Linked DNA regions of Homo sapiens: regions 2, 3, 4, 5 and 6 are each reported to be linked to region 1. The links are microRNA targets in miRTarBase. Many come from high-throughput screens and were not tested one by one. Region 1 holds a microRNA gene; each other region holds the end of a gene's coding sequence.

Region 1 (5,073 bases):
CTCCCTCAACCTCCCGAGTAGCTGGGATTACAGGGGCCCACCAACACACTCGGCTAATTTTTGTATTTTTAGTAGAGACGGGGTTTCACCATGTTGGCCAGGCTAGTCTTGAACTCCTGACCTCAAGTGATCCACCTGCCTTTGCCTCCCAAAGTGCTGGGATTACAGGCGTGAGCCACTGCACCCGGCCTGAGCAGATCAAAAACAAGGCAAGAGGGGTCAGGACACACAGGCAGAGGCTCGTTCCCTCTCCTTCCAGAGCTGAGAATAAAACTGCAGTAGACTTTCACCAGGGAGGAGGACAAGACAAAACCATGACAACAATCAGGTCCCTTGGTGACGACGTGCCCCATCAGCAAGGCTACCCACCTACGGAGTGGGAAGGTTGCCGTGCCAACCTCCCCTAGGGCAGGAGAAACAACTGGCATATGTTCAAATGATCAATATCCCACCCCCCGCAACAAAACTTTTTTCTGAAATTTCATATAGCAACGTGCTTTCTTGAACCGAGACGTAAGACTTTACATTTAGCCATTACACTATGAAGAGTATTGCAGATCTAACACCCAACACATCTTGCCCAGCACTCTTCTTTGCCTTCTATATTTTTATTCAAGTTATGGATACAAATGTCAAACAGGATGCTGCTAGAGTAGCTCACCTTAAGTGATCTTGCCAAAGATCCGTTCTTGCCAACACTGTCTGAACCTGGCTATTCAGCCGACTTCTCGGTCCTTTGTTAAATCCTACTTCTACTTCCCTTTCTTTCTTTTCTTTTGAGATGGAGTTTAGCCCTTGTTGCCCGGCTGGAGTGCAACGGCACCATCTCGGCTCACCGCAACCTCCGCCTCCTGGGTTCAAGAGATTCTCCTGCCTCAGCCTCCCGAGTAGCTGGGATTACAGACATGTGCCACCATGCCCGGCTAATTTTGTATTTTTAATAGAGACGGGGTTTCTCCACGTTGGTCAGGCTGGTCTCAAACTGCCGACCTCAGGTGATCTGCCCGCCTTGGCCTCCCAAAGTCCTGGGATTACAGGCGTGAGCCACCGCGCCCGGCTGTTCTACTTCCTTTTCACATTCAGAGATCAAGAATGACTTTATCAAATGTCTTATTGAAATCAAGACAAGCTGAGCACATTATATACTCCTACCTCTGCCAGTCTCATAACCTAACCAGGAAAAGAAGTGTATGATACCATAGAAGGATTAAGTAGTTCACTGTTTGTACCACTTTGTTAAATAACCTTCTTTATGCAAAGGTACAAAAGTTCCACACACACAGACACATGCACAAACACACATGCACGTACACACAAGTACTTGTAACACATATTTGTTTGTTTTTAAGTTTCATGTAACATCCAAGTTAAGAAAGCACAGTTAGGTCTACTGGTCTAAAACAGAGATCTAGGAATTATCTCGTTTCTTTGACCAATACAGATTACTACCTTTGCTATTTCAATGAAAAAAAAGGAAAATTCAACTTTAGTAAAGAGTTTTAAGTATTATTAGAGAATTTCACTGGGCAAATTCTAAACAGAGGGTTATTTATAACAAACTCTAAGTATTCTAAACACATATTTTGGGCTGTTTCAGCTATCTAGAATTGTGTTGAATTTAAATACTAGAGATGTAGATGGAGAGAGGTGATATGGGTCTAGAAAGCAAATCATTTTCTGGCTGGATGCTCACACCTGTAATCCCAGCACTTTGGGAGGTTGAGGCAGGCGGATTGCCTGAGCTCAGGAGCTCGAGACCAGCCTGGGCAATATGGTGAAACCACACCTGTTCTAAAAATACAAAAAATTAGCTGGGCATACTGGTGTGCACTTGTAGTCCCAGCTACTTGGCAGGCCGAGGCAGGAGGATCCCTTGAGCCTGGGAGATGGCGCCACTGCACTCCAGCCTGGGTGACGGAGCGAGACTCCATCTCAAAAAAAAAAAAAAAAAAAAGTATTTTATGAACACCAACTTCTAATACATTTACTTGTATATCATGTGGCAGCAGACGTGAGAATGTGGAAAGCTATAAGGCCTGGGACACTCAGTGCAGGCAGCCTTGGCCTCATCCACAGGGCCTCCCACCACCCCATGTTGAGAGGTGACATAATCATGGTGGCAGCAACAGTGGTCACTGCACACAAGGCACTCTCCCAGCTGCTTACAGTCATCACCCAGTTAATCCTCACAACAACCCGCAGAGGTGAGTCCTCCTGCTATTCTTCTTCCACATAAGAAACGGAGCCTTGGGAGCCTTAAGAGCTTCCCAAGTCACAGAGTAGTAAGTGTGGCAGAAGCCCCCAAGCCCAGATGCACCTGCCACCAAGGCCTATGCTCTCAACCACTGGGTTTGTAAGGAAAGTATATAAAGATGATTGCCTGAAAATAATTAAAATAACAAAGTTTGGGGTTTAAGTTAAAGGAATAAGCCTTTGTTCTCATGGAAATCACTTCCAGGAAATGTCTCATGTCCTGAGCTAAGTCAGTCTCATGTCCTGAGCTAAGTCAACAGGGTGCTAACAGATTGTCATTGGAGGAGAAGCTTTGTCATTCTACTATTGAAAGCAAGCCCTTTACTCTGAAAAGCACAAGCATAAAAATTAAATCTTATTAATACACAACGACAGTTAAACTTGGCTATACTTGGTACAACTTAAGCACCAGATTTTACCTGGTGCTTAAGTTATACCAAATATGCCAGGCTTTTAGAAATGGGCATAACTCTTTTGGCCACGGCATCACTGAACTCCTCCATTTAAGTAGAATGTGTACAACTGTGCCCTGAAACTGGGCCATTATTACAAGATCTCCCGAGAGGAAGAGTCTTGCCTACAACTGGTGAGCCTCCTCATCTTCTTCCTCCTGACTTGGTGACCAGGCAAGCTGACAGACACTAGGGAGGATGGAGGCGACCACGTGTGGAGTGCAGAAGGCGCATACCGGAGGAAGGTGAGGGATGTTCCACAGATACATGGAACAAATCACATCATTCATGATTTTCAGTATCATCCAACTCTATATAGTTCTGCCAACCTCAACTCTGCACTGAGGAAACACTTTAAGTGAGGAGGATCTTAGCAATGAGTAGATTTTCATCAAAATTAAAGATTTCTGGGAAACAATAGCACCTTATAAGAAATGAAAAAAATAGTATCCTCAAGCACCCAAATCCCAAATACTGGGTCAGATGACAGATAGACACATTTTCTTGTCTGATGCTAACAAGAATGGAAATCGAGCCCCCTGTTTTACACAGCAGTGGCGTTTAAATAGACTACTTTTCTGCATTATGAAAACAGCCTTTTAAAGACTCTTTAAAGTTCAAGTTGAGTTTCAAGTAATCAGTTTGCAGCAACTCTAGGAGAATTATTATTCCTCCTGGTTGTAAGTGCTTTTTTTTCTTTTCTTTTTTTTTTTTTTTTAAGTAGTAAAATGGAAAACAGGCCTTAGAGAATTGTATTCCTCAAGGCCTCTGACTGCCTGCTTCCAAGCTTTTGTTAAAGAACAGAATGTGTTGAATTCTTCTCAATTGGCAGGGGATCAAGCACAATACTACATAATGAGGTAGCTGAGAACAGAGTTTTTCCTATAAACACAAAGAACAACTGAATAAGTGCATGTAATTCTCATCCAATTAAACAGGAAACATGATAAAGCAAGTTAGTACAGTTGTATTTAAACCAAGTTGACTGGTATAACTTGAAAAAATTTAACCCAAGTTTCTAAGGTATGCCTTATTCATAACTGATGAGTAAAAACAATAAAAATAAGGTACCCAAACCTATTACTTGTAATGAAATGCTAAAAATAAGATCCTAATAAATATAATTCACCAACCAGAAGACAGATGAACCTCCGTTTGGGATGTGAATGATTTGAAATGGCCGTTCATTTACGTGGATCCTATTCAGTGTCTACTCGTTCACTTCATCTTAAGGCCGTGTGTCCCCCGGACTCTGTGTGTTGCCATCCTTTTCCACCTGTTCCTTCTCTAATTCATATCACGACTGTACAATTTCTGGTTTTCTTTCAATGTGTGCACAGAAGGAAGCTCAACAACTTTGTTGAGCCAGGAAGAAATTATTATCAACATTTATAATCAGGCCAAATTTCAGCTGAGTAGTGACTTTAAAAGAATTAGTTTTAATCTCAAAATAAAAAAAAAAAAAGAGGGCAGGCGAGGTGGCTCACACCTGTAATCCAGCACTTTGGGAGGCTGAGGCGGGCGGATCACGAAGTTTAGGAGATCGAGACCATGCTGGCTAACATGGTGAAACCCCGTCTCTACTAAAAACACAAAAAATTCGCCGAGTGTGGTAATAAGCACCTGTAATCCCAGGTACTGGGGAGGCTGAGGCAGGATGATTGCTTGAACCCAGGAGGCGGAGATTGCAGTGAGCCGAGATCGCACCACTGCACTCCAGCCTAGGCGACAGAGCGAGACTCCGTCTCAAAAAAAAAAAAAAAAAAAAAAAAAAAAGAGAGGGCAACAGTCATTTCTGACTAAATAATTATATAATGTAGTTTTATTTATTTGATGTTTAATTTCATGAAAAGGGGAAGGGGTTTAAAAATCCAATCACTTAGAGAATTTCAATGACAGAACTGAAAAAGAACAAACTTTCTACGGAGCGTGGTGGCTCATGCCTGTAGTCCCAGCTGGGTCTCCACATCTGAGGCCAGGAGTTTAAGATCAGCCTGGGCAACAGAGCAAAACCCAGTTTCTAAAAGAAATTTAAAAAAATAAAATAAAATAAAAAAGAATAAACTTTCCTAAACTGTATACATTAGACCAAACCATCTGGAAGTATGATTTAATTCCTCAGATGTCACATAAATGGAACTATTACAATGAGACAATATTGAAATATGTTTAAAATGGAAATAATAATAGGGTTCCTTCTGAAAAACACAAAACTTTACCAAGTTTTACCAGCTAACTTGCAAAAAATATAGAAAATGCCTAGCAGTCAATACCACTGAGACTTAACTGCCAGCAGGCATGACAGACACTCAATCCAAGTCTGTGTTATCAAATATGGGCAAATGGGCCCCTTCTCATCCTTATACTA
Region 2 (5,073 bases), not on the chromosome of region 1:
AAATTTCAGATAAAACGAATGCCTCTAGATGACCAATTGCTATCTTTTGATGAGTTACTACCACACACCAGTGCCTACTCCTAAGTATGTATACTCCTTGAGAAGTGTGGGCTTAAGTGAGCTCAATTATTCTGACACTGTTGTTACTTCTAAGTAGCACACAAAGAGATTCCATCCTAATGTTTCAATCCTAATAGGGAAATGTAAGATTTAATCACAAAACACTATACATACAAATAGTAAACGCATAACAGCATAAAATTACAAATATTGGAGATTATCCCTGGAAAGGGAAAGATGAAGGGGTGGTAACTAGGGGGTAGGAAGTCTTTAGCTGCATTTGTTTTATTCCTGAAATGAGAGGAAAAAAGATCTGAAGCGAATATGACAAAATGCCAACATGTGCTAAACCTAGGTGTTGGTTACACGTCATTATTTCATGGAATAAGCAAAAGCTACATATAAAGGTCTCTTCTTCCCTGCCCCAGGATTGCTGGTTGTTAAATATTTACCAGCACACCACTAAGTATAGTGGTTGACTGAGGTTTTGGATCTAAAGATCTGAGCCTAACTCTGATCAAATAACAAGCTTCAGTATTCAATGAATATATAACCTTTAGTAAGTTGTTCAAGAACTCAGTAACTTACTTTCCCCATCAATACAACTCCATAGAGTTATAAGAATTAAATAGCCTGATATGTGAGTGCTTAAGATGCAAAATAGCTTCTAATATAAATACCATAAGACATATACAGCAGTTACCTGACATTAACTGATAAACTGGGAATACATCCAAAGACCTTTGCCAATCCCAAATTCACAAATACTATGAAGGTATATTTATTTCCCCCATAAAAATGAAATCCATCATTCATTAGCTCTCTTCATATCCTCTTTAAACGTACTGATACTTGGAGTTGTTTTCAGGAATATTTTTGACCAAAGATATATTTGCATATGTGTATTTATAAATCTATTTGGTCCTCAAGTTCAGATGGTAATAGTTCCACTAGTGAGGAGCTGTTGAGTTACTCAAACCTAACTGGTTTTTGAGTTTCAGATTCTGAATAGGTAACAATTCTAATTTTGATAGTGAAAAATTTAACTGAAAATTTATCCAAATCTTTTCAATTTCTGAGTCTGAAATGGAAGAGACACAAATATACAGATTCATTTTAAAAATAAATTTATGAGAGTTCCTATGCAGGAAACACATTAACAGAGACCAATAAAGCCATACATTGGTCAGTATGTTATAACTGGACCCAGCAGACATGAGTATGAAGCAGCATGTGCCAGCCCAGCACAAAACTCAGCAAAATGCAGCCATCAAATACTTGGAAAAAGTGGATATGAATACAGCGTTAACAAAGAGCTTCATGTGGAGGGGGATAGGATAATGGGTTTAAGAAACAACTAGATCCCTATACCACTCTGCATAGGACTGTCCCTTCCTCTTAGAAGTCTCAAAAAATGTAACTCCTATGCCCACTTTGTTCTCAAAAAGCTATTTCACATGAATGGAGTAAATCTAAGATGTGAGAGATAGCAAATGGGGAACAGGGAATCCAACACAGGAGAGACAATCCCCAGGATCATGGTAAAGGAGATCCCAGGATTACAGCTGTACACCAGCCATAGAAGGCACAAAGTCCAACTTGGACAAAGCAGATTGCTCTAGGAGTGATTTTTTAAAAGATGAAAGAAACTGATGGAATCATTGTTACGTTTGAACATATAGAGAAGATATTCATACATATGGTAGAAATCTATGCAGTCAATTAACTAAAGGAAATAAGAAATTAGTATATGGTAAGGATAATACATCACTCAGCTGTATACAGCAGTTACATAATCTCAATAATGTACACATATCCTTAGTGTAATCACAGTCAACAATGTAAACATTGAATTGTTATGTTGGGAGGAGAAAAGGGGATAAAAAGGGAATGTGTAATGCTGGGAAGCAGAAGAGGGAAGCTTTATTTTGAAAATCAAAGAAACAATGCCTAAAATTAAAAAATCAAGTAAAAGCAATATAAGCATGTCATTTGGAGACATGGTAATAAATAACAAAAAAAATAACATCTAAAAGAGTTGAAAGGGCTTGCCCTGGAGACAGGAAATGGAAGAAGTCAGAGTAATGGCCTTTTTCCTTAGGAAAAAAATCTTACAGATCTATCCAATTTTTTAAAGCTGTGTACACATGAAACTTTGATTAAAAGTAATAGAAAAACTAAAAACTAAAAAACACAAATCCAACACAGTGTCAGGCTCATAGAAATTCCATAATAAATGTTCATTTTTTTATTATTATAATGACAAGACAAAGTTTTTCATATCACCATTACACTCATGCTAGGGATAACAATACTTCCTCTATTATAAATGCTACTTGACCTTTATTTACTATGCTTGGCATAACTGGGCATGCTTAATAAAATAAAAAAAAAAAACATTCAAATTTTTTTCTTTTACTAATCGAAGTACCTAATTTTATACAATTTGCACACTTTTAATGTTAGTAACAGAAACAATGAAATTATTTTACTTCTTGATACTTAAGAGTTTAACTCCAAGACATGCACTACAACCACATAATAGATTTTTGTCATCAATATGATGGTCCTGGCATCTTATATATTAAGTTCACACTTTAAATTAAGTACTACTTGCTAAAACGAAAACAGGTAAAAACAATGAACAGACGGTTCACGTTAAGAGGAATACGAAAAGCCAATAACAATACTGACATAACAATCTTATTTGTAATGAAAGAAATACAAATTTTAAAAATGACATACCATTTTTTAATTACATTGGCAAAAATTAAACCAAAAAGAATACCTACAATTGACCAAGGAGTATTCTGGCAGGGGGAGGGAAGTCACATACATATAGTACTAATTAGAGGGGTAAATTGTATAATTAAAGCCCTATGAACCAGTCAAACCAATCATTCCACTTTTAGAAACTTTCTCAAGGACATAATTAAGCATGTAACTCAAAATGTACAAGGACATTCACTCTGCCACTGCTTGTAGTAATAAACTGCAGATAATCAAAATGTCTAACACAGAAAAAAGTGAGTAAATTATGGTAAACCTTTCTTATGGGAAGGCAGTGGGCTTCCAATTCCATTCTTCACACCTAGCTTAGCTTCTTTCTTTTCAACAGAGTCTACTTCTAACAGAGACCAAAAATGTCAGACATTGCCTTTCTCTGTAACCTGATCTAAGTCAATGGAAACTGAGGGGAAATCTTCTGGAGGCTTTTGTTAAAAATCTTCCTCATGGATAAAACAAATGAGAGACGAAATGGCCTTTTCTGCCTTTGAGATACAATTTTACAAAGATGTAAAACTGGAAGTTATAGCAGCAGCTCTTGTGATCGAGAGGTGGAATAGCCTAAGGCAAAACAAACCAACTGAGGTCAAGGCAAAAAAAGTGTGTCTTTAATGACACCCCTGAACCCTGTGTTATGTCAAACAATTTCCTAGGTTACTTAGGCCAATTATATTTGGACACTGTTACCTCTGGCCAAAAGCATCCTAACTTGTATTAGCTATACAACAGAGTACATTAGAACCACAAAAAGTTATGTTACAGAGGTATATTTATGAACAGTAGATGTGCAGTTAAAAAGAATTTACAAAACAGTACGTTTCCATGTTTTTAAAAAAATCAAATATGTCAATATGGATTCATTTGCCAAGAAAAAGGTCTGAAAAGATACTCAAGGTTTTAAGAGTAGTTATCTTTGAAAGATAGCATTTAAATGTTTCCTTTTGCTTATGTGCATTTTCTATTTTTTTCTACAGTTAGCATGTATCACTTTAAGATTCCGCCATCCTTCCTATCAATTCAATGCAATTTAGGAAAGAAAGAGGTAAACATGTATTCCAGTGAGCTATCTTGAACCAGAAGTCTGCTTTTTTTTTTTAATTGGAAAAGTTTCTGTTCTTTAAAAAAACTTTCGTGAAATAAAATTTGATACTAAACAAGCATTTATTTTTCAGTGAATACGGAAGATCACAAACAGTTTTCATTTCCCTTTGTTACTCAGGGAATCATCATGACTTTGTACCATTTCGTATTGGAATTTCTTCTGTGAAGCAAAAACAGTCCCAAAATGAAGGATCTTCAGGTGTCATGGGAACGGCAGATGACATTAAATCATTAAAGTTGAGAATAGTAAATTGCCTCTGGGTTGGTTTGGAATCATCCTGAGATGGAACCTAAAAGACAAAAGCAGATTACCTTATTGTTATATTGCATGTTAATCTTATGATCAATTTCATAATCATGAAAATAAGTAAGACCAACTTACATTTCAGTAGTATTAAATGACAACATAGGATTCCTAGAACATTGTTTGTATTTCTTATATTAGTGTTGCCAATACAACAAATCAAAAAAAAATGAAATAGAAAACCTGATTCTTGAACTTTTTTATATAACAAAAACCTGTGGTATTTTACATGTAGATTTACTGGGCCCCACATCCAAAAAGTGTGATTTACTACATATCAGTTAGAAGGGATATCAAAATCTGTAATTTTAACGAGCAGTCAGGTTATTTTGATAGAGGTGAGTGAGAAAGTGAACTTTTGTGAAATACTACTCTAAAAGGTGGGTCTGATAAAACTGCCATAACTATACAGAGATGTATACTTCTTTAGGAAATTATTTATTCAATATTAAATTTAAACTGTATCTTACTCTCTGAGATAGAGCCCTTGTTCACAATTGAACCCAGTGCAGACCCTCTTTAATATTCTACACATCTAGTATAAATAGTACTTGGGTTTTGTATAGCGCTTTAACAAGTCAAGGTCCAGTACTTATATGACTGGTCTCATAGCTATGTTGTGATACGGTTATCTTAATTTTATGGATGGGGAATCTGAGGCTCAGGAAGAGCAAACAATTCAAACAATTTGTCCAAGCTCAAAACATAGGTTAAATGGTAGATGTGGGCCTAGAACCCAATTTTGTGAATTGTACTCTAGTCTTCCCAACATGCCACTGTTGCCTAAACAGGCTCTGTCCAGGGAAATGAAAAGTACTGAA
Region 3 (5,073 bases), not on the chromosome of region 1:
ATTTCCCTGATTACAGCAGTGATATCAACTGGAGTGTGGGGGCAGGGGAGCAAGACATTAGGTGACCCCCAGGGACGAGGGCAGTGCTGACAGGGACACTGTGGTCAGCCTGGTCTCACCTAATGTCTTCTCGTACGAGGACGTTTAGAGTTTGCTTCCCCAGGGCACTCCGTTTAGAAAGGCCTCCTGAGATGATCTCTGCGGCCCAAGGAGCTGGGCTGGCTGTAATACTTGGCTGCTTCTCTTCCACTGTGGAGGGAGAAATCCGGCCCTGGGCACAGTTCTCTCCTGGTCCTGTTGGGGCTGTCTGCACTGTCTACTGATTAGACTGCCGTGGTAGGCACCAGCTGGTACATGTTGTGTGACCTTGGCCGAGCTGCTTGACATCTCTGAGCCTCTCAGCTTCCTTACCTGTCAGAGGAGGACAGTAACAAAAACTCTCTCATTAAAAAAAGTGGTGGGCTTGGCCGGGTGCGATGGCTCATGCCTGTAATCCTAGCACTTTGGGAGGCTGAGGTGGGTGGATCTCGAGGTCAGGAGATAGAGACCATCCTGGCTAATATGGTGAAACCCCGTCTCTACTAAAAATACAAAAAATTAGCCGGGAGTGGTGTCGGGCACCTGTAGTCCCAGCTACTTGGGAGGCTGAGGCAGGAGAATGGTATGAACCTGGGAGGCGGAGCTTGCAGTGAGCCGAGATGGCACCACTGCACTACAGACTGGGCGACAGTGTGAGACTCGTCTTAAAAAAAAAAAAAAAAAAAAAGTGGTGGGCCGGGCGCACTGGCTCATGCCTGTAATCCAAGCACTTTGGGAGTCCAAGGTGGGCGGATCATGAGGTCAAGAGATCGAGACCATCCTGACCAACATGGTGAAACTCCGTCCCTACTAAAAATACAAAAATTAGCCGGGTCTGGTGGTGCGCACCTCTAGTCCCAGCTACTCGGGAGGCTGAGGCAGGAGAATCGCTTGAACCCAGGAGGCAGAGGTTGCAGTGAGCGGAGATTGTGCCATTGCACTCCAGCCTGGGAGACAAGAGCGAAACTCTGTCTCAAAAAGAAAAAAGAAAAAAAAATTTTTTTTGAGACAGGGTCTCACTCTGGAGCTGGAATCCAGTGGCACGATCATAGCTTGCTGCAACCTCCACCTCCTGGGCTCAAGCAATCCTCCCACCTCAGCTTCCTGAGTAGCTGGACTACAGGTGCCACCATACCCAGCTTATTTTTGTATTTTTTGTGAGATGGGGTCTATGTTGCCCAGGCTGGTCTTGAACTCCCGGCCTCAAGCAATCCACCCACCTCAGCCTCCCAAAGTGTTGGGATTACAGGCATGAGCCACCTTGCCTGGCCTTTTAAGAAAATGTCCAATACCTTAGGCTGGTGTTTTGTAAATAATAACAATGGACCTCGAAGGCAGGACTTGAAATGACCTGGAAACTGCTGGGTGTGTGCACACAGGTGCATTTTTCTGGGGCTGGGATCCAGTTTTCATTAGGTTCTCAGGAGGTTTTGTGACCTAGAAAAGGTTAAGAAACCACTGTCTTGGAATGGCTAGACTAAACTAAGCTCTATAAGCTCAGGTGACACCCATGAAAGATCCCCATTTGGGAGATGAGAGGCGTCTTCCTCCACACTGGCCCAGTGTGACCAATTGGCCTCACGTGCAGGAGCCGACTCTGGACACGCAGTCTCAGCGCTTAGCGCTGGGAGGGCGGGGTGACCGTCCACATCTGACACGAGGAAGCGGCCACCAGCTGTGGCTGTCACCAGAGTTGTCCTATGTCTTCGTTCAGACCTGGGAGAAGCAGCCATTCAAAGGACAAGAGAAGCCCCAGGCTTGGTGGATCTGGTGGCCAGCTATGGTTCAACCGGCAAGGAAATTGGGGGCCCCAGCCTGGTTTTGTCCCTGTGAAATGAGAGGGGGAGAATCTTGTGCCTGGCACTGCTCGCAGTGGGCTCCACCAGCCCCGGCCCGGCTGGAGTTCCACCTGTCACCCACCGCACAGCAGTCTCGCTCCAGGTCTCTCGAGTGGAGCTTCACCAAGCTGTGATCTTCATATGCTCTGCTGAGCAGGATGTGCACCCCTGACAAACCTGCTGGCCTGATCAGTATCATTATCAGAGGGTGCTACTCACTTCCCAACCGCCCCTTTCCAAGCTGTCAGCTCGGTGGGGACTGAGCTGGGAAAGGGCGGTGGGGCTCAGTCTGGGATGGCCTTCCCAGGCCCTGAAGGCCCAGCACACCTCACACCTCCGCTCCTCCTCATCCACACAAAGACCTAAGACACCTGGCTCAAGGAACATGAGTGAGTAAGGGCACCTGGGGGCTTAGGGCGGAAAGGTGGAGAGAGAACAGGCGCACGTGGGGAGGGATTTGCCCTCAGCCAGCAAGAAGCACGGGACGTGACCTCCTCACCCCACTTCCACGTCGCTGCGACAGCCTGATACCGCCAGTCAGATGTGGCTTGTATGGTGGCACAGCCCACTCCCAGTGATGCCGGTGGGGCCAGGCTGCCAGCAGGTAAGCGCCAAGGGTACAGAAAGGGTCCGAGCATAGCAGGGCAAGTGCCTGAAAGATGGCTGTGGGCACCCAGGCCGCAGAGGCCCTGGGCAGCTGGGGGCAACCTGCCACCGTTCTGCTCTGTAAGACCTGATGCCGGGCCCCAGCCCCGTCGGGAAACCAGAACCCACTACATCCCGGCCCCGCCACCGCACAGGCTCAGAACAACAGGGCAGGATCACAGGCCGAAGCAATCTGCCAAGAATTCTAATGTAAACACTGATTTATTTAAAAAATACTACAGAGGACAGATTTGGATTCAAAAAAAACCACAGAGAATCATATACAGAAACAAAATGCACTGGACCCCGAGAAGCAGAGGGGGAGCCACCACAGGCCCCCGAGGGGGCAGGGCAGGACGCTATGCACACGCCACTTAGAAAAGAGCGTCTATAAAAGATGCATACCAAGAGATACGTGTAAAATATAGTGGCACATCACGTTAACAAAAGGAAGGGACCAGTACCTCATGGAGACAGGCAGTCGGGGGACCTGGGTGGGCGCTTTGCTCTGTCTTCAAGGCCGCTGTCGGTGACTAGTGCCTCCCTCCGGCTGCGTCACAGCCGTCGGGGGCAAAGAGGTGATGTGCTGTAAGAACCGCATAAAACGATCCAGAGGAAACCATTTCTATCAGAAAAATAAAGTACAAGTTTAGGTGATGAGCGTAAAGCTAGGGCCTGTGCGAGGCTGCTGGCACGAGGCGGTATGAAGGGGTGGGAAGGTGGCTTCTCCCGGCGTGAAGCCTCAGGGGCGGCCACCTGCCCACTGCTCTCGGAGTTAGCTGCTCTGTCAAGGTCCAGGAGACCCCGGGTCCCTGCCCAGAGTCACAGCCCCCGTATCTGGGCTCCGGCCTGGGGCAGCCTCGGGGAGAAGATGGCAGGCGTGCTCTGTGAAATACGTGAGGCTTTCAGGGGCTCCGTTTGTGGTTTTCCTAACCCTCCCTGATGACCCCCACAGAACATGAGGCTATGTCACTCACGGTAATTAAATAAGACATTCGCCCAGTTCAAGAGTGCAGCCAGGACCAGGACTGGCCAGGCCCTTTCCTCCCACCTGTGCGCAGGTGCCCAGTGGCAGCTCTATTCTCTCTCAGGGCGGCTACACAGAGGCAGGGCTTTGAAATGCTTCAAGAACTCAGAAAAGTGAAGGCTGTCTTGTTCCAAAGGAAAGGGCCTTGTAAGAATCTACTTTGTCTTAGAGGAGTGGGGGAGGGGAAGGGCCCTTTCAGGGCACCCAGATGTGTGAAAGGACGGTTCACTCTGGGCCCTTGCAGACCTGCCTGGGCCCAGTCTGGGGCTATTTGGCACCAGCTGTTCACCCCACTAGCCACTGCCTCCCTTGTCCCCTGCCTCCATTCTGCTGGGGGAGGGATGTCGGCAGTGACAGTGACCTGCCACCCTTGAGACTCAAGCTTTCTTGCCAGGATTCACAGTGCACGTCACAAGAGAGCAAGAGCTGGGCTCTGGGGATGTGGACAGATGGAAAGGACATGCCCCATGCCTCGATCCTTTTCAGCTCCCACCTGCCCAGGACCCAAAGGCTGGTTGGCTTTAGCACCCTGTTTTCCACCCAAATCAAGAGCTGTCCTGCACGTGAGGAAATGGCGAGTGCACCCCACCCCGGGCAGCAGCAGAGGGCAGAGTGACCAGCCGTGTGCATGCCCGTGCATGCCCTTCCCGAAATGCGGTTCTTGAAACATGTCTTCAGCACACGACGGGCAAGGCCAGGGAGTGCAGGCAGAGGGCCTGACACACAAGGCCTCAGTTCAGGCTTCCATTCTTGGAGAAGTGGAAGAAGGAGGCCCAGCCGGGGGAGGAGGGGCTCCAGAGAGAAAAAAATGAAAAAGACAGTCCACATCAGCCGTTCCCACCTGGCCTGGAGAGCTCAGTCTGGGGCACTAGGTGGGAGCGGGGCTGGCGGGTCCTGGCATGCCGACTGCAGTCCACGGAGCAGGAACTCCACAGATAAAATTCGAGGACAGAGACGGAGCGGGGAGGAGGAAGGTGCGGGAGGGCAGGCGGTGCAAACGTAGGTAGTAGAGCTGGACTCCACAGGGCCCTCAGCTCTGCCTGGCGCAGAGCTCCTGGGCCAAGGTGCTGACTCACTAGTCCCTTGTCAGCCACTGTCACGGGTATGGGCGAGCCCGCATGTGCTGCAGGCAGCTCCGACGGGCCTGACACCTGACCCCTGACTGCTGCTACCTCTGCACTATGTCACTGATTTCCTTCACCGAACTGAGGAGCTTGCTGAAGTCCTGAGTGGCCGCTGGACCACTGCCTGCTGTCGCCGGGCAGATCTGAAGCTCCCGGAGATTATTCTCCAGTTTGTTGATGGCCTCTCGGAAGGCAAACTTGTTCCTCATTTGCTGGATGGAATCCACATAGCTCACGCAGAACGTGTAGAGGTTTTTGCCGGCCTCCAGCACTGCGCTGTGGCTGGCCATCTGCTCGGAGTTCCTAGAGATGGCGAGGCACAGCGCCTCGGTGCTGTCCAGGACCACGCCCTTGGTGATGG
Region 4 (5,073 bases), not on the chromosome of region 1:
TGAGTCACCTGTTTCTGAAGAGCTGATAAAAGCCCTAGAATAATGTCCAAATGCGCATAGGTATAATTTTGCTTATCATTTCAAGGCATTAAGGACTAATTTTATTCAAAAAAAATTAGAAGAATTCAGCCATAGTCAATATTAATAAACAAGGAATGACCCAATTGTTTTTCATATAAGGGACAATTATTTTGTGTTTTTTAGTGAAACTACACAAGTCTTAAAACTGAGGTGCTTGACAAACTTCTGTCTTCCCAGGCCCTCTTCCTACTCCCAAAACTTCTGATTTAATAGGGCCAAGAGGGCCTGGGCATCAGTATTCTGAAGTCCTCTAGATGATTATTTCTTTCATCTCCATAGAGGATGATATTTCATAATATTTGAAGACTTAGAGGTTTATCCCAGCTCAGGAAACCATGGAACTTTCCTGCTGCAGAGCATCCCTCGTCCTACCTGTAGCTGATCCTGCTATAGAGATGGGGTATCAAGAGCAGAGGAATTGCAAGCAGGTGGGGATTGTGTGGGACCCATCCTGACCCCATTTTGCCTCTCTGCAGGAAGTTGGAGCTGCCACCTGTGTCTGGACCTGTTGAAAGAGAAAGCTTCCATCTACCAGAACCAGAACTCCTCTTGATGTGGCCACCCACCTGCTCCCCGACATATCTAAGGCTGTTTCTCTCCTCCACTTCATATTTCATACCCATCTTTCCCTTCTTCCTCCTCTCCTTCACAAATCCAGAGAACCTTGGGGTGGTTGTGCCAGCCTGCCTTTGGCAGCTGCAAGCTGAGGTGGCAGCTCTGACCACCTCTGGCCCCAGGCCCTCAGGGAGAAAGGAGCAACACACTGCCCCTAGGCGTGCGTGTGGCCCAGTTTCTCTCTGCTCTCCATTAAGTGCATTCACTCTGCTTGCCTTGGGCCCAGCCCCTGGTGATCACAGGGTTCAAACAGTGTCCTCCTAGAAAGAGTGGGAGAGCAGCTCACTTCTCTGTGTTCTGCCTCCCCTCTGGTCTCCAGAGTTTTCCTGTCCTCTAGAGGCAAGCCAGGCCAGGGAGCTGGGAGCGAGCAAGCTGAGGCCACGTCCACAAGGAGCTTTTCATGCCCCTGTGCCGCATAGCCTCACCTCTTTCCTCCAGAGTGGCTCTCTGCGGCCCTGTGTTCCTGCTACAGAGTGTTCTTTTCTGGAGTCAGGATGTTCTCGGTCACCCTCCTGGTTCTGCCCTGTCCCATTCCACCCCACCCCAGGGGGAACAGTAGCTTCACCTTGTTATTCCCATTGCTCTCCTGGCTCACTCTTACGGTCGGTCTCCAGTGACTGAAGCATTCCCCACCCTTGGAATTTCTCATCTTCTGCCTCCCTTCCTACTCCTTTTGGTTTTGTGGGGAGAGGGGAAGGATCAGGGGGCCAGGCCAGCAGCTCGGGGGCCACAAGGAGATGGATAATGTGCCTGTTTTTTAACACAACAAAAAAGCCTACCTCCAAAATCCCCTTTTTGTTCTTCCTGGACCTGGGCATTCAGCCTCCTGCTCTTAACTGAATTGGGAGCCTCTGCCACCTGCCCCGTGTATCCTGGCTCTCAGCTCATGGGGAAGCCACATAGACATCCCTTTCTTCCCTTGCACGCTCGCTAGCAGCTGGTAAGGTCTTCACACCCTGATTCCTCAAGTTTTCTGCTTAGTGGCACTGACATTAAGTAGTGGGGGGACAGTCCATGCCAGGACACCCTGGAGTAGCCTTCCCCCTTGGCCGTGGGCAGGCCCTAACTCACTGTCGCTTTGGAGTTGAGGTGTCTTTTTTTTTTCTTTCTTTAGTTCCTGTATTCTAAACATTAGTAAAAATAAATGTTTTTACACAGAGCCCTCTGCTGGATGGTTTATCTCCTGCCTTTCTCCATTAAGAAGGCCATTTCATCCTAAGATTTCCATGATGGTGGTTTTTTTTTTTAATGTTTTGAAATACAGCTTTTTTCCCCCCAAATTAAAATTTTTTTGTGGAACCCCAATATGTAAAGCGAATATAAAATTGGTTATTTTGTTTTGTTACATAAATTCAAGTTTATAACAATTCTTTGTTATAAAGAACAATGAAGCTGTTTTGATCAATACAAAATTTGGGTTAAAATCAACTTTAACATCTATTTTTATGTTTCAGTTGATTTGGAGAATTCTCCTAGTCTTGGATACATAGATGGAAGTGATGACAGGTTTATAACAGTTGACCTTGCAATCTCAGACATTTAAAACAGGACCAGAAGTTTATATAAATATAATTAATAAGCAAACTAATGACATCACCATGGGACACACACAAAAGTTCTTGCAGGAGCAGGGTCTGTGTGGCTTCAGTTGCCTGCAGCGCTCCCAGGCCAGAGCAAGTGCTCTAGGATCTGAACTGCCCGCAGTGCAGCCCTGCAGCCTTTCCCAGGGCACGTTGATGTGCACACAGTTTCCCTGAAGGCAAAGTGAACATGTGGAGAGCTTACGTGGCAGCGCGTATGTCTTCAGTGTGTGTTTTAGAAGTCCAACTGTTGTTTTTATGTTTTTAAAGGAAAGATTTGAATCAAGCAGTTATGGGCCCCCTGAAGTATCCTTTTTTCTAGAACATTCTGAAAGTCATCCTTGCCTATGGGAAGCCTAGGCCGGCCTGCACTGTTATGTTCAATAAATAAGCAGGGTGCTCTGGGCTGGGGATTGTGTGAGGAGCAGAGCGCAGCCCGTCCTCATGCTTTTCCACTGAAGTAGGCCAGGCAGAGAGGGAGTACAGCAATGGATGCGCTTTGGCAGCTGAGTAGTCCGAGAGCCAGAAAAGAAATGTGGAAAATAAGAACGCTGTAGCAGGCCTAGGTGAGGAAATTTAGGAAGGGTTTGCGGGAGGTAGGATTTGAGATGGGTCTTGGAGAGTTGGACAGTGTCAGCCGGTAGGACGGGGGTGCGGACGGAAGCCTGTGAGGAAGGCAGAGGATGCGGAGCTGTGAGCGGAGGGAGCAGCGAGGCTGGAGAGCAGCTGGGCTGCGGGTCAAGACGTCTGCGTTTAATTCGGGACTGAAGGTTAGCAGGGAAGGGAACGATGCCAGATCTTGAGTTTAAGAACTTGAATCTTGTAAAGTACCAAATCTAATAAAATACTCGTCCTAAATCATTACTGGCCCAAGCATGCAGTGTTTCCGTGGCCGACAGACTCGAGCCAGCGCTGTCCATGGTAACCAGCTTTTGTGTGGCTTAAAGCTTGCATCCATTTTCTCCTTTCATCGTTTTCCCAAAACAATTCCGTGAGGGCTGTTAGCCCTGCTTGGTAGACGAAGAAGCCGATGCGGTCTAGGGTCACGGCCAGGGAGGCTTTGGGACGCCAAGTCAGCTCGGCGGTCACCACACCACCTACAGGGCTCGTCGGGCCCTCGGGGTCGGCGGCTGCTGGAGGCGCCCAGGGGAGTCCTGCTGGTTCCTGGCTCCGCCTCCCGCCCCTCCGCGCTAGAAGCCCCGCCCCCAGAGGGGCTCGACGAACCGCCACTTCCGCAACGTCCAATGAAACTTAGCCGGGGGAGGGACGGGGCGCCACTGAGGACCAATCTGCTTGGGCCGGGGCGGGGCTGCGGCGGGTGGGTGCAGAGGGGCCGCACCGCGGACTTCGCAGCCGGGAGAGAGCCCGGCGCGGGCGGCGCGCACGGGACTCTGCTGTGCGCGCGCCCGCCCGCCCGCCGTCCGCGCAGGCCCTCGGTCCGCTCTGCCCTCGGGGTCGTGGCGCCCATCCCTCCCCTGTTCTGCTGTCGCCGCCCGGACAGGGGCTCGGGAGCCGGGCTGGGGGCAGGGGCTGGAGCCGCGGGACCAGCGCCTGAGGTGGGTGCGGAGCGGGAGGCCGGGCGGGCGGGCGCCTGGGGCCGCCCCGCCGACATACTCCGGGTCGAGGGGGAGTGACCGGCCAGGGCACGGAGTCCGGCTGCCGGCCTGCCTGGGTCCGGGCGTTCGTTCCCGCGCCCTGGGACCCTCCCAGGCCACCACCCTCCCCGCGGGGACACCCCGCCCCTCCGCTGCCCGCAGCCTCCTCAGGCCTCCCGCCCTTTGTCGCTCGTGCACCTGCGCCCTCGGCCCTGCCCTCTCGCTCCCCTCAGGACTGACCGTCGCCTAGCCTCCCTCTCAGGACCCGGCACCAAATTAGCCTCGCTCCTTCAGACACCCTCTGTCCCCTTTGTCGTCTGTACACCTGTCACCTCAACTCTGTGTGCATCCACCCACCTCCCACCCCCCAGCGGCGTCATCTGAATCCAGCCCAAGCCGCCTCCCACTCCCTCCCGGGGGCTCCTCCCCCGCAGCCCCGTAGCCCCACACCTGCCCCCTCGGCCCCAGTCCCAGGCCCTCCCCCGTCCGTATGCCTTTGTTATCTCTGCAGCTGTCCCCTGCACTTTTCATCCTTCTTCCCGAGTGAGGCCAGACCCCAGCCCAGACTCCCCTGTCCTTCTGAGTGGAGAGACGCCCCCTCCCCAGCTCTGCCCTGGCATCCTGGGGACGGGGCCAGCCGGCTTCCACTCGGCCTAGCCACTTCCTCTTTCAGCGGGTCCAGTCTCACCCGGTGCCTGCGCAAGTCCTCATCTAATCTCTTTTCCCTCCTGCGCTCCTTTCCTAGCTCTTCCGGCCTCAGATTACTCTACCCGCTCAATCTTTCCTCCCCGCACAGGTGCCCCGGAGAGGCCATGGAGCTGAGCAGCAAGAAGAAGCTTCACGCCCTGTCCCTGGCCGAGAAGATCCAGGTGCTGGAACTCCTGGATGAGTCCAAGATGTCCCAGTCGGAGGTGGCCCGGCGCTTCCAGGTTTCCCAGCCCCAGATCTCGCGCATCTGCAAGAATAAGGAGAAGCTGCTGGCGGACTGGTGCAGCGGCACAGCCAACCGAGAGCGCAAGCGCAAGCGGGAGTCCAAGTACAGCGGGATCGACGAGGCTCTGCTCTGCTGGTACCACATTGCCCGGGCCAAGGCCTGGGACGTGACGGGGCCCATGCTGCTCCACAAAGCCAAGGAGCTGGCCGATATCATGGGCCAGGACTTCGTGCCCAGCATCGGCTGGCTGGTCCGCTGGAAACGCCGA
Region 5 (5,073 bases), not on the chromosome of region 1:
TATGGACCAGCCCAAAGTTTATCAGTCGGAAGCCAAGACGATGTTACAGAATGTATCTGCTGAAGTATGTGTTCCAGTAACTCTGGTTCCAGTTCAGATGCCTGACACTCCGAGTGACCTAGTGCGTCATACTACCACACTCCCACCATCTTCTCATGAGATTCTGTCACCACAGCCACAGTCAACTGATTATCCACGAGCAGCGGATTTAGCTTTTCTGGAAAAATATACTCTTACTCCTCAACCTGCAAATATAGTTCACCCAGTTCGACCTGAACAAATGCTAGATCCTAGAGAACAATCTTATCTTGGAACATTACTGGGCCTTGATAGCACTACTGGTGTTCAAAATATTTCTACGAATGAGCATCATTCATGAGTAAATCTAAACATTCCACAGATTTTTGGATGGTTATATGCTAATGGTAGAGATGATAGCTTTTAAATTTGTGGGGCTGCTATTTTCTTGTTTTCTCTAGTTTCTCAAGTCCTCAGAACAGTTTCAAATCAAGAAAACTATGTGTCTCTGTTTACTGAACATGAATATTTGGACAAAATTTCTGGCATAATATTTGAAGTGCACATTTTTGTGATTTTTAAAGATTATTTAGTGCTAACTTTTAATGGTTTCTTAAATTTTTTGCAATTATTAGCTGCTGATATTATGGAAGTATTTTTTTTAATCATCAGTGGAAATTTTTATTCTTCTTTAGTCTCATTCCTCTCCTTCTTCTTCCTAGCCCTTCTTACAAACAAGTTTGAGGACCATGTAGCCTTTAAGAAGGAATTAAGAGTACACTGATAATTGCAACTGTTTCTTATCCTAAGATTCAATATTACGTTATACAAATTTTTAAAATTGAAATTAGGAATTTGAATTTACAAGAATGCCTTGGATATTTCTGTGTTGTCTTTCCATTCATACATAATTTTAGGTTATCATTATCCTTTGGACTTTTGATATACTCAAAGCCAGAAAGCTTAACTAATGTAAGATTAGCTATTATTTGTAGGACTGAAATAATAATCCAGATAATTGGTTTTTGCCTATACTTCAATTGTTATGAATAAGAAAGGCAAACATAGGTCTGGGCATTAAATTATACAAACTGAAAATGTGTTACAAGAAAAATATGAGAGTTTTAACTAGATGTTTTTCAAGGTAAGTTCACCTTTTGTACTTTACTATTTATTTCAGAAATGTTGACAATACAACATAGCATATGTCTTCATCTCACTAAGAAAAGAGCAGTTGTAACTCAATGAAATTTAATTAAACATGCTACTTTTGATTTCATTTACTTGGCTGATAGAAACTCTGGGAAACAGAACCTAGATATTTTGTGTTCAATTGTTAGAAAAGGTGCCAAACAGATTATGAAATTTGTGCCTAATTTAACTTAACATTGTTTAATTAAATGGAACCACTACTTATATACAGATTTACATGCAATCCAGATCTTTAATTTTGCCTTCACAAAAGCCTAATGTCTGTAATTAACCTTTAATTTTTATTTCTGTATGAGACAAAAGTTGAGGACTTGGTGAAAGGAAATAGCAGTTACAGCAAAACCTCAGTGATTACAATTGAGGAAAAAGTCAAAATTATAAAATACCTTTAAAGACATGCACTTTCCATATTTTCAAGTCAATTTTAACTAAAAACTAAGATAATGTTTCCTAGTAGAGTTGCTTGAAGATTAGACTAGACAGGGTTGATTTATTATTAGCATGTCATTTGTACATAAACTAGTAGAAAATAGCAGTTTTAAAAGTTTTCTATTTCAGTTTTGTTTACACTCCTAATTGCTTTAAGCACTTTTTTTGTGTGTGTAAACTGTAAAGTCTAGCCCAGCCCTTGTGAAAAAAAAAATCACAAATAAAACAGTGAAGTTTTAATGAATAAAGTTTAATCAATTAGTAATGGCGGAAACTGTCGCTGAAGCACTTAAGAAATAAAGGTACTTTACAGCAACATTCGCCATACTAGCGGAGGTAAAACAAAAGAAATATTGAAAACTGAGGCAGTTAACCAAAGTAGCTCATATAAATAATAAAACCAATCTGAGTTTAGCCTCATTTGTCAAGGTTTGGTTGTAATTGTCTTAAGACTAGTGGACATACTTACTATGTTCTCCTTTTTAAAGTATTCTTATTTCTTTGTGTGGAAATGTTATATCTGGGGTACTTACATGATTGAGGTTGACTATATGAGGTACTGTTAGTCTGTTAGTCTTTCAAATTGACTTTTAAAAATACATATCTTTATGATTTTCATCATAAAGACTGGCAATATTATAACTAAAAATCTTACTATAATGAAAGAAATCATACATAAAAATGTAGCCTGCCTTACATATAAGCTAATGTAGAAAAGTTTAGACTTATAAAAAGGCAGATAGTATATATATATTTATATACATGTATGTATATGGTATATTATACATTTGGTGGCAGAAAAAGAAGATACTGCATTTTCACATTGAAAAGAATACTTTGATTTTTGAAGGTATTTACTTTAGGGTTCTTTTAATAATAATGTCCGTCCTAATGCTTTAAATATATGATTTAATTGTAGGAATTGGTTTACACAGAACTTTTTTGGAATACATCTCTTAGTAAAGTGAAATATAATAATATAATTGTATTTAGTTACTATTGTAGATAACTTAAACTTGAGTAGTGATTTACTGTTTTATAAAATGCTTTCATATATGTTATCTCATTTGAACCTCATAACCAGCCCTGAAATAGTAAAAACAAGCTATATTCCCACTTTATAAAGAATTTGAGGTTAAGATAAAAGGACTCATTTAAGCTCACATGGTCAGTAGGTGGCAGAGCTACTAGTAGGGAAAGAAGAAAGCTAGCATTAATGAATGCTTACTATGTGCCAGGTACTACATCCTGTCATTTAATCTTAACCTAGTCTGGGAGATGCGTAATATAATTCTGGTGAAGTAATAGTTTCAGTGGATGATTGAAAACAACAACAACAAAAACAAAATGAAACTAATCTGCTGCCTCTAATTTCCAAAAATGTAAGAAATTTTACAATTGTGAAAACCTCATGGATTTGGGCAAACTGAATGTATATAGGCTTTTGACAAAAGTTGGCACAAAAAGTATAAAAGGAGGCCTATTCTTTTCAGTTGACCTTTTGTAATATTTGATTTAGAGTATTTTGGACAAATGCTCTATAACTCTAATCCATTTATTTTGTAACTGTACTTAAAATTTTGAATCTTGCAACTAAGTTTAGCCTCATTCAGAATTTTTTTATTTTGTGAGCATAATTTATTGTTTTAAATTAATTTTTTAGCAGATAGCAGTTAGCACTTAATCTGTAAATTGAATAATTTATCAAGTGCAGGAATGTGTTAATCTAATGGGTTTTGACTTAAATGCACCAAAGATTTTTAGTAGGTATTAAATAGTTTAAAAGACTTTAAATTCTTTCTTGCTTGAATAACTATTTGTCCAAAGAAGCACAGTTGAAGTCCTAGAATAATGGATTTTTTTAAAAAAAAAAAGTTGTTAGTTTGAATACTGAGATTGATTATTGTGTTTATATGTATAAAAATAGGAGCAAAAGAAAATACTCTGGGAATAGTCATACTGACAAACCAATTATAAGTGAGAATACTGTTTTCCTTAGTTTAATTAATACAATGTTATGTTTTTTAGAGAACACTACTAAATGCTAAATAAGCCTATTTTTTACACTACACTATCAAAATAATTTTTGCCTTCGAATTTTTTTAAGTCAAGTTGAGGTTATTTTTGTAAGAAACCCAACCTATTTTTTTTGCAGCCTAAAATCCCATTTAAGGTTAGGGGTTGGTCCTTATGCCAGCAAGATTTAACCAACTGTAAAGATAGTAGTCTTTGCATACATTTAAGTAATTAAGGCATTTATTGCTGGGAGAATAGGAGTAGCAAAAATATGGTTTTAAATTGGTGCTTTATTAGGTGACTTCCTTTTAGGCGATGGCAGGTCATGAAATAGGTACACTAATAATTTTCTATCAACCTTAAAAAGTGTCAAAGCATCTTTGTAGGGTGACTCTAAACTGCTAATTAAGGGTTAATAAGTAATTATCATTGGTTGCTTTTCAATATAATTGCAAACAAATTAAAAACACAGTTAAACTAATATGTTTATAAGCTTGAGTTTTCTTCCTACCATATCACTCTCATATATCAGTGATGAAATGTCAGATTTTGAGCAGTAGCTCTTTGACAGTGTCCTTTTATACCCAGTCTTTTCTGCATTGAATGCTTTGTGCCTTTTCGATGTGTTGTAGTTGCTTAGAGTTGATTCTGCTGGCTAGATTGTACTGATTAATAGATTTTTATTTTTATTTTTTTTTGGTTATGGGTGTTATGATTGTGTTGCCTGCTGGTTGGGCAACTTTTTTTTTTTAGGTTGCTTTATGTTTATATAGGCAAATTGGCACTAAGTGTTAGTGTGAATATTTGTTTTTATGATTTATATATCATTTTAAAAATCTCTGTTGTGGCCTTTATAGTTACTGTGAAGCCACTCTTGGGCCTGTCTCTATATGCTTATTAGAGGAATCTGACAAGTAAAATAAAATGAGTAGTGTGTCTGCATCTGTGTCTCTGTTTCTCTGTCTTTTAAATAACCAGTAACCATAACTACACAGCCCTGCACTGAATGACCTTATTTCAGTTTGCCTAAAACTGAACAAGAGGTGATGGTTTGAGATGAGTTTCTCATTAGGAGCAGCAACATCCCAACCAATATATAATGAGTTGATCAACTCAGGAAAAATTAGGACTTTAAAGAAGGTTGTATTTGGATATTCTAAGATTCAGTGCCAAATTTAAAATGCCTAGAAATGTATTCTACAAGTAGCATTTCTAAAACTTTAAGTAGTGTTATAGTAAATGCTACTTGCTGTTAGAGTGAATAATGGATAATGTGAGAATAATTTTCTAAACGACTTCTAGAAACTAGACAGTTCTTCCTTATATCCTACCCTTTTCCACATTTCTCTAATGTGGGGTTTTTTGTTTGTTTGTTTGTTTTGAGGGTAGAGGGAATCC
Region 6 (5,073 bases), not on the chromosome of region 1:
CCTCTCTCCTAGGACAGCCAGGAAGTGGCTGGACACCCAGGGCCCATGCTGGCGGTGTGACCTGCCACCTCTGTATGTGGTTCCCGGCCCTGGGCCGAGGCTGTCTGGCTGTCTCCATTTCCCAGCCAGTGGAAAGTGACACGGGAAGCCGAGGGCAGCCAGCTGTCCTTCAGTGGCACGGTCAGAAGCTACCTGTGTCACCAGCAGGAGGGTGGCAGCAGTGTCCCTGGGGCCACGTGCCTTGTTACACTGGGGCTTCGGTCCCTGTAGCAGGGTAGCTGGTGGGCAGCGTCTGCAGCCCCACATTTCCGCTCCCCGCCTCCTTTTCTGAGAGGTGGTCCCTGGACATCCCCACATCCTCACCTGCTCTGCCAGCCTCATAGCTAAGACTCTTTCTGCACTGGTAATGCCAAGGCTGGTCTGGAGCTCAGGCCTCTCCGTCATGCTAGGCTACGAAGCAGGCACCTCAGACTCCCTGAACCTGCCCCCTGGCTTGATCGTTTCTGCCGGGCACTCCCCATGCCAGTGAGAGGCCTGGTTCTAACGTGCTCTGTGCCAACTGAACGTGTGACCCTCCCAGCAGGCGCTGAGGCCAGATCCCCTCAGGGTCCTGATGAGTGTGGCGCCATCTGCCTTACAGCTCCGTGTCCGCAGCCTGCCCGGAGAGGACCTGAGGGCCCGTGTTAGCTACAGGCTGCTGGGGGTCATCTCACTGCTGCACCTGGTGCTGTCCATGGGGCTGCAGCTGTACGGTTTCAGGCAGCGGCAGCGAGCCAGGAAGGAGTGGAGGCTGCACCGCGGCCTGTCTCACCGCAGGTGCGTGCGGGGGCCACACATGGGGGCTGGGGGTGTCCTGGGCACTTCACAAGGACCTGTAAGGTGCACCCACCTTGACGCTCTGCCCCACCTTCCCCAGGGCCTCCTTGGAGGAGAGAGCCGTTTCCAGAAACCCCCTGTGCACCCTGTGCCTGGAGGAGCGCAGGCACCCAACAGCCACGCCCTGCGGCCACCTGTTCTGCTGGGAGTGCATCACCGCGTGGTGCAGCAGCAAGGTGAGGTGGGAGCCTGCTGCCGTCCTGGGGTGGTCAGCGGCTGTGCCGGCAAGATGCACCTGGCTGCAGCAGAAGTGGGGAGTCTGGCTCTGAGCACCCTCCAGTTTTGAGGGTACAGAGGTGGGCATCTTTTTAAAGGCTCCCAGGTAGGTCAGATGTGGGTTCGTTGAGGGGGTTAAAGTTCCAAATTCACGTGTATTGAGGCTTTGCCGAATGCAGGTTGGGGTAGTGGCCAGCCCTGAAAGGCCCCACGCTTGCACCACGCATCCCAGCACACCCTTCCTCCCGGGGTCCTCACCACACTTGAAAACCCTAGCACACTGACTCACACCCACCGAAGATGCCGGCAGGGTGAGAGCGCACGCTTTCCCAGGAGCTGGGCTTCGTGGGCTGTGTCAGCTGCGGGAGCAGGAGGGAACCTCCCGGCCGAGCCCCACACCCTGAGCCCTACGCCCCCAGCCCCGCCCCAGCCCCCACTGGGACTCGGCCTTCTGAAAAAAGGCTGGCTTTCTTGGTCATTAGTTGAAGGAAATACAACATTTATGTTGTGTGTCATGTGCAGAGAATGTGGACAGGAAAAGAAATGCCGATGGGGATGGGCATGGCCCAGTGGCCCCAGCTGCTGTGACCCCCTTTCTCCTCTCCGCAGGCGGAGTGTCCCCTCTGCCGGGAGAAGTTCCCTCCCCAGAAGCTCATCTACCTTCGGCACTACCGCTGAGCCGGCGCCCGGGTGGGCCTGGACACAGATGACCTCTACGGGAGTCTGAACGCCAAGATTTAGTCTCAGGATTAACCTTGCTTGCACAGAAGTTAGAACACTCTCAGTTTTTTGTCATGTAAGATACTAACCTAGCCACCCTGGGAGAGAACAGAAAGCTGTCCCTGGCTGCGCTTTCTCAGCCCTGGGAGGGGCGCCTGAACCCAGAACATTTCCCTAACCCCAACCTGGTAGGACTCAGCCACTTCTTCAGGAATTTCACTTATTTGGACGGGATTTTAGGTTTCCCTCCCTTCCCCAAACCATACAGTTGAGAAGTAATTCAGAAGTAGGCCAGAAGACACTTTATTCGTTTATATTGTGAGAAAACAGCCCCATCAGGCTTGTGTTAAGGCAATGGACTGAATGAGTGCGTGCTGGGTGGGGTGGGGCACGGAGGCTGGCGGGTTGCTTCAGCCAGTGCAGTGAGAACAGCAGCCCCACGGCCCCATGGGAGGCGGCGCTGCTCTCCCCGAGGGCGGCTGGGCAGAGCACATCCCCCAGGACTTGATGACCACACGGGGCAGAGAGAAACCAACCAAGGCCAGCACCTCCGTCGGAAGCATTTGGCACACACACCTTCAATACACGTCAAGGTCGCTTCCAGTTTTAGAAAACAGAAATCTGCATCTCAGCCTGAGACGCACAGAGAGGTCTCTTCCTGACCCAGACGCACTCACGAGCCAGGTCCTGGGGGTATGGGGGCTGCCAGGGGCGCCCGAGCCCTCTCCTGGGGGGCCTGCTGGGCAGGCGACCTGCTGACCCACGGTCACTGCTGTGTTCAGCCCCTCAGCTCGGCCCCAGCCTATTTCCCGCCTCCATTTGATGTTTCCAGGTTTTCAAAACTGCATTTAACCTGCGCCAGAGAGTTCACCGTAGGCATCTTTAATAAACTAACTCCAGCAAAATGTGGGTACGTTACTAACACAAGATGGAACTTGAGATTTCCTGAAGCGCAGTGTTAAAATGCCTCGAGGGCGTGTGCCACATTTCCCTGCTGACGTAAAACACCTGGCCAGCAGGACCGGCTTCCGGCAAAGACCCGCGCAAACCATGTCTTGCTGTTTGACTTACTTAGGAATGAGGATGACCCTGTATTCCTGGGTTAGTCAAGGTCAGCTTGCCAGAGACGGAGGAGGGCGGGGGGGCCGTGACCCTCTAGACTGGGAGGACCACCAGGAGAGGCACTGGGGGCTGCGGCCGGGTGGGCAGATGCCGCCGTGGCTCCATCCATCAGCACCCAGTCCTTTGCTTCACTGTGCTCTGGCCAAGCGCGTGCGACTTCCTGTCACACCTTAGGCCTGAGCGCTTATTAAGAAAACAGTATGAAAAATGACAAACACTCCTGTCCACAGTCTGAGAATCCCAAGTGTCTCAACACGGTACCAGAAGTACCACCTGGGAGCAGCACTGGCTATCTTGGGTCAGGGACACACAAGCTTGAACGTGGCCTCTTAGAGGAGCTCGATGTCAGATATGTAAACACTGGTACAAGAAAATCCAGACACTAAGCATTCACCGTGTCAATTCTGAGACAGGAAACACCGCCCAGAGTGAGGAGCCTGCGCAGCCCGGGGCCCAGGAGGAGAGGCCTTCACTCGCATGTCAGTGTCTCATCTGGGACCACAGCTGTGATGTTCTGCTGTGCAATATGGGTCACCTTTCGAAAAGGCCAAACAAAAGGTGGGCTTTCCTGTGTCCAGCGACTGCCATGTTTTAGGTAAAGACTTTAGTAAAGGTGGAGGTAAAATCACTTGGTAAAACGTTGAGAGTATTTCTTTTCTCGAATCAAAAACGCTGACATGCAAGTGGGTTCCGCCTCTCCCGCAGTGGGGGGCCGAGTGCTGAACCTACAAAGCCAGTCTGCTCCCTGCCAGCTTCGCTGCCCCTCATGGAGGGTTGCATGAGGACAGATTTAAATTAAAAACAAAACACTCTACGTATCAAAGAAATGTGTCAAAATAATCTCAAACAATTAAAATATAATATATATTTATAATTCCGGGCCCTCAAAAGCAATCATGGTAGTTAAGAACCAAGTTTTGAGTCATTAGGATAGAGGCCAACTTTAAACATCTCCAGTGAGATGGAATTAGGAAACTGGCATTAGAACCCCACACAGTTACTTGACAATCACCTTTAAAACGTTAAGTTCTTTCGGACACGCAGGAATCAGGCTAGATCATCCCTCGGGCTCTGTGGAGTGGCTGGCACCACCTGCGGCTGCTGGGGAAGGCGGCTGGCGGGGAGCGGCCCGTTCCTCCCTCGCAGGCCTTGCTCCTGCCTGCCCACCTGGCACAGCGGGGACCGGCCACTCGCCCTTGCTCCCATGGGCTCCACCCGCCTGGCTTCCCGCCTGCAGCTGACTAGAATTCCATCCGTGAGAAACACTTGAACGTCACTGAAAAAGAAATCCATGCGATTTGGTTTAAGCGCCAGTTTCTTCTAGAACCTGATATTTCAGTTACAAATCATTGAAGCTCCTTTTTAAAAAGAAAATTTGACTCCCTCGTAATCAACTACTTTATGTGAAGAAAAAAGGCATTGTTAACAATGGCTCAAAACTGTTCTTGCAACACGTGAGGCAGCCTCAGTCCCGCTTCTAGCTGGCGAAGGCCTTGCCGGCATCCTCCTTGCCTCTGTACCTTCTCTTCCCATGTGTGAACGGGATGTACCGGTACTTAATCATGTGCTGGGGAGAGAAACACAGACTCAGTTACTGCACAACCGCTCTCCAGTCAGTCACACTGTCCCCAAATCTGAGCGGCCAAAGGTCCCCCATCTTTTCTATACATCAGACAAGTGGAATCGGAGCCCCAGTGGCTTCCTGCGCCCACATCAACACAGCAAGACCTTCCACAGCCCACGAGGCCTAGGTTTGAAACCCCATCAATCCCAGTGCTTCGTGAGCCTCCCGTGGAGGAAGGGCAAGGGGGATGTGAGGTGGCCCAGGGCCCTCTCTGCAGCCAACACCCCGGGCACAGAGTGAGGCCCGCAGCACGAAGGCCACACCGTCAAGGGCACAGTCCGCAGTCTCGGCTAACTTCCCCCTAACACCCTCCTCCTCGGGCAGGCTGGCGCGGGGCACTGGGCACCCTAAGAGGAGCCACCGGGACACTGCACTCGCCGGGGCTCTCCCACCCGGCTTCCACAAAGTTTCCACCAAGAGCCCGCCCGCTCCCACAGCTGCGCTCCCCGTTTAGTTAGCCGGCCGTGCTGGGAACGGAGCAGTGTCCTCGTCACACACAAGACGGTGCCACTTAG

Evidence for each region. The annotated mature microRNA hsa-miR-4720-5p reads CCUGGCAUAUUUGGUAUAACUU and lies in region 1 at 2,682-2,703, opposite strand. An mRNA with a match to its seed (bases 2 to 7 or 8) in the 3' UTR can be bound and repressed. Matches are read on the target gene's strand: a 7mer-m8 pairs with bases 2 to 8, a 7mer-A1 pairs with bases 2 to 7 and ends in A, and an 8mer does both.
Region 2: the mRNA of AASDHPPT is a reported target of hsa-miR-4720-5p. Seed matches in the 3' UTR shown: 7mer-A1 at 2,870-2,876 and 7mer-m8 at 2,630-2,636.
Region 3: the mRNA of ABL1 is a reported target of hsa-miR-4720-5p. Seed matches in the 3' UTR shown: 7mer-m8 at 4,483-4,489.
Region 4: the mRNA of DPF2 is a reported target of hsa-miR-4720-5p. Seed matches in the 3' UTR shown: 7mer-m8 at 1,711-1,717 and 8mer at 3,066-3,073.
Region 5: miRTarBase lists ZBTB41 as a target of hsa-miR-4720-5p. Seed matches in the 3' UTR shown: 7mer-m8 at 3,850-3,856.
Region 6: the mRNA of RER1 is a reported target of hsa-miR-4720-5p. Seed matches in the 3' UTR shown: 7mer-m8 at 3,910-3,916.

Annotation. Positions count from the first base shown.
Region 1 is chr16:81,382,651-81,387,723 of GRCh38, reverse strand. MIR4720 (microRNA 4720) reads right to left here and starts at 2,706; the gene lies at 2,631-2,706. It overlaps GAN (gigaxonin), which reads right to left. Exons shown (of 11, transcript NM_022041.4): 11 at 1-5,073. RefSeq lists a silencer at 656-850.
Region 2 is chr11:106,095,908-106,100,980 of GRCh38, reverse strand. It overlaps AASDHPPT (aminoadipate-semialdehyde dehydrogenase-phosphopantetheinyl transferase), which reads right to left. Exons shown (of 6, transcript NM_015423.3): 6 at 2,286-4,238. The coding sequence ends at 4,074. Among named protein-coding and RNA genes, the nearest start is that of AASDHPPT, 21 kb to the right of the region's middle.
Region 3 is chr9:130,885,367-130,890,439 of GRCh38, reverse strand. It overlaps ABL1 (ABL proto-oncogene 1, non-receptor tyrosine kinase), which reads right to left. Exons shown (of 11, transcript NM_005157.6): 11 at 2,765-5,073. The coding sequence ends at 4,757. Among named protein-coding and RNA genes, the nearest start is that of QRFP, 8.9 kb to the left of the region's middle. RefSeq lists a silencer at 1,624-1,918.
Region 4 is chr11:65,351,126-65,356,198 of GRCh38, forward strand. DPF2 (double PHD fingers 2) reads left to right here. Exons shown (of 11, transcript NM_006268.5): 11 at 558-3,137. The coding sequence ends at 634. TIGD3 (tigger transposable element derived 3) reads left to right here and starts at 3,626. Exons shown (of 2, transcript NM_145719.3): 1 at 3,626-3,832; 2 at 4,668-5,073. The coding sequence starts at 4,684. RefSeq lists silencers at 3,354-3,413, 3,504-3,823, 3,844-3,903, 3,914-4,083, 4,144-4,333.
Region 5 is chr1:197,154,665-197,159,737 of GRCh38, reverse strand. It overlaps ZBTB41 (zinc finger and BTB domain containing 41), which reads left to right. Exons shown (of 11, transcript NM_194314.3): 11 at 1-5,073. The coding sequence ends at 379. Among named protein-coding and RNA genes, the nearest start is that of ASPM, 11 kb to the right of the region's middle.
Region 6 is chr1:2,402,463-2,407,535 of GRCh38, reverse strand. It overlaps RER1 (retention in endoplasmic reticulum sorting receptor 1), which reads right to left. Exons shown (of 7, transcript NM_007033.5): 7 at 2,100-4,501. The coding sequence ends at 4,412. It overlaps PEX10 (peroxisomal biogenesis factor 10), which reads left to right. Exons shown (of 6, transcript NM_002617.4): 4 at 641-816; 5 at 917-1,052; 6 at 1,702-3,562. The coding sequence ends at 1,770. Among named protein-coding and RNA genes, the nearest start is that of PEX10, 7.6 kb to the left of the region's middle.